Linked DNA regions of Homo sapiens. The protein of the gene in region 2 interacts with the protein of the main gene of each other region in a pairwise test. Each region holds a gene or a part of one and is shown on either strand. Other genes may lie near its edges.

What was found.
Region 1: the proteins of ZNF638 (region 2) and WWP1 interact in a two-hybrid assay, tested with the Homo sapiens proteins (one large-scale study listed by BioGRID and IntAct).
Region 3: the proteins of ZNF638 (region 2) and PLSCR1 interact in a two-hybrid assay, tested with the Homo sapiens proteins (one large-scale study listed by BioGRID and IntAct).

What each region holds. Positions count from the first base shown.
Region 1 is NC_000008.11:86,348,944-86,352,599, reverse strand, and holds part of WWP1 (NEDD4-like E3 ubiquitin-protein ligase WWP1), read right to left. Parts: intron 1-3,656. UniProt on the Homo sapiens protein: E3 ubiquitin-protein ligase which accepts ubiquitin from an E2 ubiquitin-conjugating enzyme in the form of a thioester and then directly transfers the ubiquitin to targeted substrates.
Region 2 is NC_000002.12:71,422,181-71,425,836, forward strand, and holds part of ZNF638 (zinc finger protein 638), read left to right. Parts: intron 1-633; coding exon 634-1,858; intron 1,859-2,469; coding exon 2,470-2,535; intron 2,536-3,656.
Region 3 is NC_000003.12:146,527,569-146,531,224, forward strand, and holds part of PLSCR1 (phospholipid scramblase 1), read right to left. Parts: intron 1,264-3,656; coding exon 1,046-1,263; intron 1-1,045. UniProt on the Homo sapiens protein: Catalyzes calcium-induced ATP-independent rapid bidirectional and non-specific movement of phospholipids (lipid scrambling or lipid flip-flop) between the inner and outer leaflet of the plasma membrane resulting in collapse of the phospholipid asymmetry which leads to phosphatidylserine externalization on the cell surface.

The DNA.
Region 1 (3,656 bases), on a different chromosome or scaffold from region 2:
TGAGTCCAGGAGTTCAAGACCAGCCTGGGAAATAAGGTAAGACCCCCATCTCTAAGAAAAATAAAAAATTAGGCAGGGCACGGTGGCTCATGGCTATAATCCATCCCAGAACTTTGGGAGGCCAAGACGGGTGAATCACTTGAGGCCAGGAGTTCGAGACCAGCCTGGCCAACATGGTAAAATCCCGTCTCTACTAAAAATACAAAAATTGGCTGGGCCTGGTGGCATGCACCTGTAATCCCAGCTACTCGGTAGGATGAGGCACAAGAATCATTTGAAACTGGGAGGGAGAGGTTGCAGTGAGCCGAGATAGCGCCACTGCACTCCAACCTGGGTGACAGTAAGACTCTGTCTTAAAATAAATAAATAAATAAATAAAAATAAAAAATTAGCTAGGTGTCGCGGCACACACCTGTACTCCCAACTACTAGGGAGGCTAAGGTGGGAGGATCGTTTGAGCCCAGGAGGTTGGTTAAGGTTGCAGTGAGCCATGATCTTGCCACTGCACTCTAGCCTTGGGTGACAGAACAAGACCTTTTCTCAAAAAAAAAAAAAAAAAAGGAATATTTTAGCTAGCTAGCTAGAAAAATGAACTCTGACAGAGCACACTAGGACCCCAAATAACCAATTCAGTTTCTACCAACAGTTCTCAAACTAATGTGCATAAAATCTCTTGAGATATTTGCAAAAAATGAAGATCCCTAAGCTCCACTCTCAAGGACCATATCAGAGATCTCAAAGGATACTCAAGAATCAACATGTTTAATAAGCATCCCAGACGACTGTTATATAAGGATTGCGCTTTGACAAACACTGGTCAATACAATATTTCATCTAATGATGGTGTTAATGATTTCTTGTTCCCAGGCTGCACAGCAAAACCATCACTAGCTGATATATTGCCAGCCATGTTAAGTCAGTATCCCAGATTTCGTGCTTACCCTTTTAGCAACTTTTTTTTTGTTTATTTGGCCAGGCCTGGTGGCTCATGCCTGTAAATCCCAGCACTATGGGAGGTCGAGGTAGGGGGGATCACTTGAGCCCAGGAATTCAAGACCAGCCTGGGCAACATCTCTACTAAAAAAAAAAAAAAACTAGCTGAGCATGTTAGTGCGTAACTGTAGTCCCAGCTACTTGTGGGGCTGAGGTGGGAGGATTGCTTGAGCCCCCGAGGTCAAGCCTGCTATGAACCATGATCACACTATTGCTCTCTAGCCTGGGAGACAGAGCTGTCGGAGACCCTGTCTCAAAAAAAAGCTGGGGGTGGAAATTTGATAAGGAGCTCTGCCCATGCCAAAACGAAGCTAGAACTGTCTTTGAGAAATGAGTAGCTCACAGCAAAGTGAATACTTGTTTGAATTTTCAACTTCATAATACTGAATTACGAGCAATAAACATGATTTAAGGGCTTACGTTCTAGCCACCATGCTTTCTGCTTTATAAACATTATTTCAATTAATCCTTACAAAAATCCATTAAGGATGGTATTCTTTACATTTTACAAAAGAAGAAACTGAGGCAATCCTGCCATTAAGCAATACTACCAGAAGTCAGGTCTGCCTGACTTTAAACTGTGACTCTTAACCTGTATGCCAAAAGTGCCTCTACCGTTAAAAACTTAAAAAGAGAAGAACAATCTAGTTTGTTTACTTCTAAGGTAAAGAATATCCTACTTTATACAAAACAGGTTCATTTAACTAATTCTCCTCCCCAGTCTAACTAAACACAGACAAAAAGTAGGACATCTTGGCAAGTTGGGGCTAATGTGTAACCACAGTATCCTAATTTCAAGTCAGGACTCAACAGTCAGCTTCCACCCAGCCCAGTCAATCAGATTTATGAGTATACTGAACAGCTATCAAAAGAACTTGTTTTCCTTGTTTCCTAAAAGGCTATCATACCTACATTCTGTTAATGCTAGGATATTTTTTAACTACCCAAATAATTTAGGGTAGGGAGGACAGCCATCAAGAAGCACCTTCATGTAACTCTATCCGTGCCCTTCTTTGTGCCCTGGCCTTTCCTATTTCTATAAATCATGTTTCTCAGTACATCCAATTACCAAACTCCTCCCCGCAACAGCCAATGTACTATTTTCAGAAATTTGCAAAGAGATTTGCATTAGGATGCAGGGGCCCGTTTTTTAGTGTACATGAAATGCTTCAAAAATGCTTCGCAGCTATGCACTAATAACCTAAATTCTTAAAATGAAATGCATTCACTACTCCACTCAGAAGCTATAATGTAATAAAAACTAAACACTCATTTTCTTCATTTCACCTTTAACCATGGCATTACTTAGCAGCCAACTTGAACTAAAAACAAACAAACAAAAAATACTGCTAAGACTAAAATAAAGCGATAGTGGATAAGGTTAAGTGATAATGCGAGAAAAACCCAGATAGCAATCAATGAATCTACCTGTTCTTGGAAAGGAGAAGCAGCACCTTATTCATTGTATTTCCATAAGAGAGGATTACCATTCCAGTCTCTAGAAGGAAAGAGAATTCTCTCCACTATAATGACACCTCTCCAAGGAAGAGTAGCTTATCCCAAGCTTTTTCAAGACACTGCAAACAGAAAATGCCATTGGGGCTTGGAGCGCGTGGGGGACAGGTTGCTCACTCTGGTCAAGGCCAGAGTGATAGTCAAGAAACCCTTCTCCCCTAGGTCTCAAATCCAATCACAAGGGCAGAGGGAATCGATCTCTGCCCATCTGTGGCCCATTTTCTGCATGGGATGCTGTCTGTTCCAATTCACGAGATCGGGTAAATCACTACTTCCAAGCAGCATGGACTCTTGGGTCCTGTACTTTGTTAGATCCCACTGCCCTCAAGCAGAAGGCAAGTCAATCCTACCCTATTATGGTGGCACACTAGGAAAAACCTCAGAGGCCACAAATGTTCTCCTCTTTTCTAACCAAGGAGAGTGCTAGGTATTCCCATTTGCGTAGTAAGCCAGATGTGCTGTCATTTGCACTTTTTAGACTCAGCTTTCCCTGTGGCATGCTCAGACTCAAAATCCAGATTTGCGGAAAGTAGTAAGCTGCCTAAGCTTCAGCTTCCAAAACAGTTTTCCGTAAGTCCTGTTTTGGTATAGTAAAGCTGATGTTATACTTAAATAAAATTTATGGTAATCTGTTACATGGGTGGCCCCAAATGGATTCACACATTTGTACCCTTGAACCTGGGCTAGATTTGTGACTTGCTTTAACCAGTATAATAAGGCAGAAATGATACTGTATCCCTTACAAGTCTAAACCTTAAGAAGATCTGGTTGCAGACCAGGCACGGTGGCTCACGCCTGTAATCCCAGCACTCTGGGAGGCCGAGGCGGACAGATCACCTGAGCTCAGGAGTTCCAGACTAGCCTGTCCAACATGGTGAAACCCCATCTCTACTAATACAAAAATTAGCTGGGCATGGTGGTGCACGCCTGTAATCCCAGCTACTCGGGAAGCTGAGGCAGGAGAATTGCTTGAACCTGGGAGGTGGAGGTTGCAGTGAGCCAAGACTGAGCCACTGCACTCCAGCCTGGGTGACAGAGTGAGACTCCCTCTCAAAAAAAAAGATCTGGTTGCTTCTGTTTTGTACTCTTGTGAGCCCTAAGCCATCAGCTACCAGGTAAGGCCAGCAACTCTGCTGGAAAGGCTACTT
Region 2 (3,656 bases):
TTTTGTCACTAGCTTTAAATCCTCAATAGAGTATATAAAGAATACTTTCCAAATAATGTTCTAAGTATTATCATTAATAAATATGGTTCTTGGGTAATTAAAAAAATATTTTACATCCAAAAAAAAAATAAAAAGGTGATATGATTTAGAGTATGGTCTTTTCCCCCCACCAGTTTCTGTTTATGTTCTTTTTAGGTAAGGTTCACTTATAAAATTTTAAATCATAATGCATGGATCATTAGTTTTATTGTAGAACTGTACACATATTTTATTATTTCAGTTACCACTGTTGGGAATAGGACCTGATAATATTTGAAGTGTCTCAGATTCACATTTGACCTTTCAATGTCAGGGGTTAACTTGACAGAGGAGGGAAAATATTGGCTGTAATCACATGAGCGCAAAAGGAACATATCAACAGTCATAATTTATATTATTTACGTATTTCCAGCAATACATCTTACCCATTTTATGCTGATTGGTTGGATTTCCCAGTGCTTATTACGAATGCATCAGGAAGTCTTAACAATTGGCATCAGCAGGATTCTTTATAATGGTTGAATTCTCATCATAGTTTGATTTTTGTTTGTGTTTTTGTTTGTGTTCTTTTTGTTTGTTTTTAAATACTTTTAGCCCTGGCTTGAAAAACAGTCCAATTGATGAAAGTGAGGTGCAAACAGCAACTGATAGTCCCTCTGTTAAACCTAATGAGCTTGAAGAAGAAAGTACTCCCAGCATTCAAACAGAAACTTTGGTACAGCAGGAAGAGCCTTGTGAGGAAGAAGCTGAAAAAGCAACATGTGATTCTGACTTTGCTGTTGAAACTTTGGAGCTTGAAACTCAAGGAGAGGAGGTCAAAGAAGAAATTCCTCTTGTAGCATCCGCTTCAGTCAGTATTGAACAATTCACTGAAAATGCCGAGGAGTGTGCTTTAAATCAGCAGATGTTTAACAGTGACTTGGAGAAGAAAGGGGCAGAAATTATTAACCCTAAAACAGCATTGTTACCATCTGACAGTGTGTTTGCAGAAGAAAGGAACCTCAAAGGAATTCTAGAAGAATCTCCATCTGAAGCAGAAGATTTCATTTCTGGAATTACACAGACTATGGTAGAAGCTGTAGCTGAAGTAGAAAAAAATGAAACTGTTTCGGAAATATTGCCATCAACTTGTATTGTGACGTTAGTACCAGGAATTCCCACTGGGGATGAGAAGACAGTGGACAAAAAGAATATTTCTGAAAAAAAAGGTAACATGGATGAAAAGGAGGAGAAGGAATTTAATACTAAGGAAACCAGAATGGATCTTCAAATAGGAACAGAGAAGGCTGAAAAGAATGAAGGTAGGATGGATGCAGAAAAGGTGGAAAAGATGGCAGCAATGAAAGAAAAGCCTGCAGAAAACACTTTATTCAAGGCATACCCAAATAAAGGAGTGGGTCAGGCTAATAAGCCTGATGAAACTAGTAAAACTAGTATTCTGGCTGTATCAGATGTATCTAGCAGTAAACCAAGCATCAAGGCTGTTATAGTCTCTTCTCCTAAGGCAAAAGCTACAGTTTCAAAAACTGAAAATCAGAAAAGTTTTCCAAAATCTGTGCCCAGAGATCAAATAAATGCTGAAAAGAAACTTTCAGCCAAGGAATTTGGTCTGCTTAAACCCACAAGTGCCAGGTCAGGCTTGGCAGAAAGCAGCAGTAAATTCAAACCTACTCAGAGCAGTCTTACCAGAGGAGGCAGTGGAAGGATCTCAGCCCTGCAAGGCAAGCTTTCTAAACTGGATTACAGAGATATAACAAAACAATCTCAGGAAACAGAGGCTAGACCTTCCATCATGAAACGGGATGACAGCAACAATAAGGTGAGGAGGGTAGGAAGAATGGCACAGTGTGTCTTTGAAGTGATTAGCTCCGCTGCTGTAGCTATGTAGTAGGAGATGTAATTTTGTTTCATACTTTCATCTCCTCACTCTACCCCGGAAGCTCCCATTTCCTTTTCTTAAATGATTCCATTGTTTAAGCCAGTAGACATTCAGAGTATTAAACTCAAGTTCATAATTTATTGACATGTTTGAAAAGCATTATTTGGATACAATTTGGAAATAACTGTGGTTTAAAAAAAAAAAAAAAAAGTCTGCAGTGAATCTCCTAAGGTGATTTACCACTCTGCTTCTGAATGGGAAACTGTTTCCTCTCTTAAATTGAAGCTTCCTTTATCAGGTCACTGATTGCCTAACTAGACATTGTGGGACGAAAAGATCAGTAAAACTGAATTTAACTACAACTTGTACAGACTGTGCCTATACTGTTTAGTGACTGTTGACTTAGTTTTGTATACATGTTAAATAATTTGCATAATTGACTGTATTTGGGTAATGTTTACTGTTTTTTTTTGTTTTTTGTTTTTTTTTCCAGAACATTAATAATATGGTTGTAAATTCCGTTTTTCTGTATTTCTTATTTACTATTTCAGACTTTGGCTGAGCAAAACACTAAGAATCCTAAAAGCACTACTGGTAGAAGTTCCAAATCTAAAGAGGTAAAAAATAGATCACAGACCCTAACCCTTCTTTTTCATCTCCATAGCACAGTTCATCTATCTTATAACTTGTGCCTGCCTTAACAATGTTAGTGACTAAGAGTTTAGAGCAAGGGATAGGAATGAGATGTTTTGTTTTTAACTTATCTCTAATCCTACCATTAATTTACTTTTTGACCTTGAGCTAGTCTAAACACCTTGTGTTTTCTTGAGGCGGGGGGAGCGGGCAAAATGTTATATGGGGACAGAAAGAGAGTAGAGTAGGGCAATACCTCCAATCTCATATTGACAGGAATAGGTTGTAGACACAGAAAAAAAATTTATATATGTGAAAGAGACTGACATTTGACTTGAGTCATCCTCATTTTGTTAAAACAGGTTATCCTTTTGGCTCTAATTTAACCTTAAGTGGATGGTCTCTAAGATTAACTTTACTGGTACCAAGTTCTGTTGTCAAACATATTTTATATTTGGTTGTTATTTTAGGTTTTTACCATTCATAGAATTTTTTTCAGTCATTTTACTTTTCTTACCTGGTAGGGGATAGATTTGGGCCTATGTTGTTGGGGCAAGGAGAAATGTTACTAGTTTTAAGCAGAAATAAGGATTATGGCTACTAAAGCAGAAATAAGGATTATGGCTACTAAAGCAGAAGTAAGGATTGTGGCTACTTCAGTTTGCTTTGTTAATTTGATAGTACAATCGCTTGTAGATATTCTCCCTAGAAATTACAGGGTACATATTCTAATGTCGTTATTATATATAATAGCAGTTAATCATTAATAACATACTAAATGTATAGGAGCCCTGGTAGGAATTTATCTTCTTTACTATTGACGGCATTTTTAAAAATTACAGATACTGTTGTTTTCAAATACAGTTATGTTAGTCATTGAGTCTTAGTAATAATTTTTTCATACAACTTTCTCAAAATGTAACCATTATATTTCTTTTATTATTATTATTATTTTGCAACGAAATCTCACTCCTGTCCCCCAGGCTGGAGTGCAATGGCGTGATCTCGGCTCACTGCAACCTCTGCCTCCCAGGTTCAAGTGTTTCTCCTGCCTCAGCCTCCCGAGTAGCTGGGTGGCATCTGCCACCACACCCAGCTAATTTTT
Region 3 (3,656 bases), on a different chromosome or scaffold from region 2:
AAGTTTCAGATTTGTATTAAGCATACTTAATATCAACCTTTGTCATATGTGATAACATCCTTTATGTATTTTATGAGACTCTGATTTTTAAAATATCTATTTCTATGTATTTCTTGCATAATATAATAATGACCAAAAATTCCTATGATTATGCCACTTAAGCACATTGTGGGAAATTAAGTTACTAAAGAGAGTGCAAGAAAGAAATGATTTATGAAATGAAAACTGGTTGAATATCACAAGAATATTTGTATGTGTATAGACTGGACACACAGAGTTTCTTGTTTCTATTTGACCTACCTGATTTCTAACACCAATTAAATGTTAAACCTCTTATTGCTGAGATTAATTATAATTTAGTGCAACAAAATCCAGGACTTTTTACTCCTTTATTAATGGCATTTATAAAATTAGGTCTTCCAAAGAACAAAAGCAGCATCATAAAAATGCAGTTTTATTAGTTACAATAAAAAGGTGAGTCATATTATACATAAAATATTAACCCCTTGTTTGGGGCCACTTATTGAAACTCAACAATAAACTTTATTTAAATTTTCTTCCAAATTATAAGGCAATTATTCAGTATTGAGACTAAAGAGCACTTCGCTCAGTACCAAAGTTTCGGGATTAAAAAAACAGTCTTGACTCTTTAGGTTCTCACCCCAGAGTGAGCTATATAACCTCTCTGGACCTCAGTTTCTTCTTTTGAAAAATGTAGCACCTATACATCACAGACTTTCAATAAGGATTAAATGAGTTAATACATGTATCAGGCATACAACAAAGGCAGGAAACAGTGCTAATTAAATGTTTGCTATTGGCCATTATCATAGATTGTATTTAAGATAACAGAAAATACAATTTTCTAAGGCATTTGTATTTTGCTTTAAAATTGAACCAGACCTAGAAGAATTAGAGTAATCTGTTAGCAGAAAATACAGTTTTGCTATTTCAGACTTTGGTGAATTATTCATTTGCTAATCTGGTTAAGCAAGCTGGAAGCACAGTTCTGTTTTTTATGAGTATTTTGTGTCTTTGAAATTACCTGACTTAAATATTCTAATCCAGGTGGACAGTTTAATGGAGGCTGTGGCGCTGGCATCCATGGTACCCCTGCAGCTCCAACTGGCTGATTATATACTGGCTGATTATACACTGGCTGATTTGGGACAGGAAAGCCAGCTGGGCCAGGACCTGAATGGCCGGCTGGTGGGGGTGGGTAGCTGACCTGGGGCCCAGGGTAGCCACTATATCCTGGAGGTCCTGAAATACAAACAAGTGAAATGATTTGTAACTGCACCAAAAATGGAATTGTCAACCTTTTTAGGGTTATGCCATCTATCTATAAGTTGACATTTCAGCGTAGACATCTGTATCTGTGATGTTTAATACGCTTTTCTCTTTCTGAGATTTTTCAATGAAATATCTGTGGTTGCACATCCACTTCTATTTGGATGATAGTATGCGGTGAATAGCCTTACCCTTACCATTCAAAACTCAGAAGGAAAATATGCTTTAATATCTGAGAAAATGAAAATAAATAACCATGATCTAGAGTCACCTACATAAAGATTCTGGCAAGCCTTCAAGGGAAACAAACACGTCATTGGTAGAAGGCCCAAAATAATGGCTTTGAGTCAGCATTTCTAGGGCCAAAGTATCTTGTGAAAAATGATAATTCTGAAATTCTAGCAAATGCCTTATAATATATGTATAGAACTGGGGGTAGTTTTGCCCCCTCTCTGCCAGGGATATTTGACAAGATCTGCAGACTTTTTTTGGTCACAACTGGAGGGGAAGATAATACTGCATCTGGTGGGTAGAGGCCAGGGCTGCTGCTACACATCTTAAAAGAGCCAGAACAGCTCCCTAAAAATGAAGAATTGTCCAGCCCAAAATATTATAGTGCCACTGTTGAAGGTGAAAGCACGTCATTTCTTTCTTTCCATTTTTTTTTTTTTTGAGACAGAGTCTTGCTCTGTCGCCCAGGCTGGAGTGCGGTGGCATCATCTCTGCTCACTGCAAGCTCCACCTCCTGGGTTCACACCATTCTCCTGCCTCAGCCTCCTAAGTAGCTGGAACTACAGGCGCCCACCACCACGCCCAGCTAATTTTTTGTATTTTTTAGTAGAGACGGGGTTTCAGTGTGTTAGCCAGGATGGTCTCGATCTCCTGACCTCGTGATCTGCCCACCTCAGCTTCCCAAAGTGCTGGGATTACAGGCGTGAGCCACCGCGCCCATTCGTTTAGTACACGTCATTTCTTTTAGTACATTCCAGATGCCTGCTTGGGTTAATCCTTTGCCTTATGTTTTAATCCATAATGTATTGCTTTCCTAAGTCCTTCTTCATTAAAATAAAATTCTATTATAATATTTAGGTTAGAAATTTAAATTTCACAATTTAACATCCTTTGGTCTCTGGAAAATATAATTTGAGAAACAAGGATGGCAAAAAATTGTAAGAGGCAGAAATTTAATAACAGTAAATGTACTTCATATTCTCTGCGAATGTGTGATTACAATGAAGATTTATATACCTGTTTGTATGGTCCACAGTGTAGCAATTCCATAGCAGTGGAATACAATTTCAAAGGACTGTGTTTCTCAATATTTTAACATTAAAGCCTATGCAAAATGTAATACTTAGAATAGGAAATTTACAAATTCTTTTAAATGGATCATTTATGATAAAATTCATTTGCCCTTCAAAAATAAGGCTTAGAAAAACAGAATAAACCTCACAATAATGCATCATAAATATAGCTTTTATAATTTATTCCTTTATGATGAATGAATATTTACAAATGATCATAATGTGACTGGCTGTGTTGTAGAATATGAGGATACAATTCTCAAGGAGGCAGCCTGCTGTCAGAGAGCTTACAGTCAACTTCTGGGAGAAAGAAAACACATTTAAAACAAAAAAAATTCATATGGATGTGATGGAGAGAATGTATGCGAGCGAGGGCAGGGTATGAGGCAGTTACTTTGGGTAAATATAATTTATATCAAGGTCTAAAAGATGAGAAGAGAAAAGCTTTATATGAAGATTAGTGATAAATGCTTCAGGAGGAAAGAAAGGCAAATAGAATACCTCTGACTTTGTAATGAATTTGACAGGCGTAAAAGAGAGAGGAATGTCATAAGAAAGAAGACGACTAGGAAAGGCTGTTAGCAAAGCAACAGGAAGCTGTTCATCAAAGGAGGCCTTAGTAAGGAGTCTGGATTTGGTTCCAATTATGATTGGCAAGTACTGGAGGAATTTAAGCAGAAGAATGAGTTCCATGGTCTTATCTATATCTTACAAAATTTTCAGGAGTGGAAAAGCATTAGAATTTACAATGGAAAACACAGATGCAATCCCTGCCCATCATTGTTTAATGAGAGAGACAACTTTATATCCCCACTTATTCTAGGGAGCTATAATACCAGTGTAATTAATTGATTCATTAGAATTGGAGATAAATGCTTTCAAGTAAGAGACCACGGTTTTATGACTAGAGATGCCAAAGGTCGCTATTGAGATGGGAAGAGAAAAAGGGAAGGAGCAGGAACAGCTGCCTTGAGGGGTCACCTTTATGCTGAGATCTGAAGGATGCACAGGAGTTCAGGAGGCCAGAGTCACAGAAAGAACATTTCAGAGCAACGTCCTGGG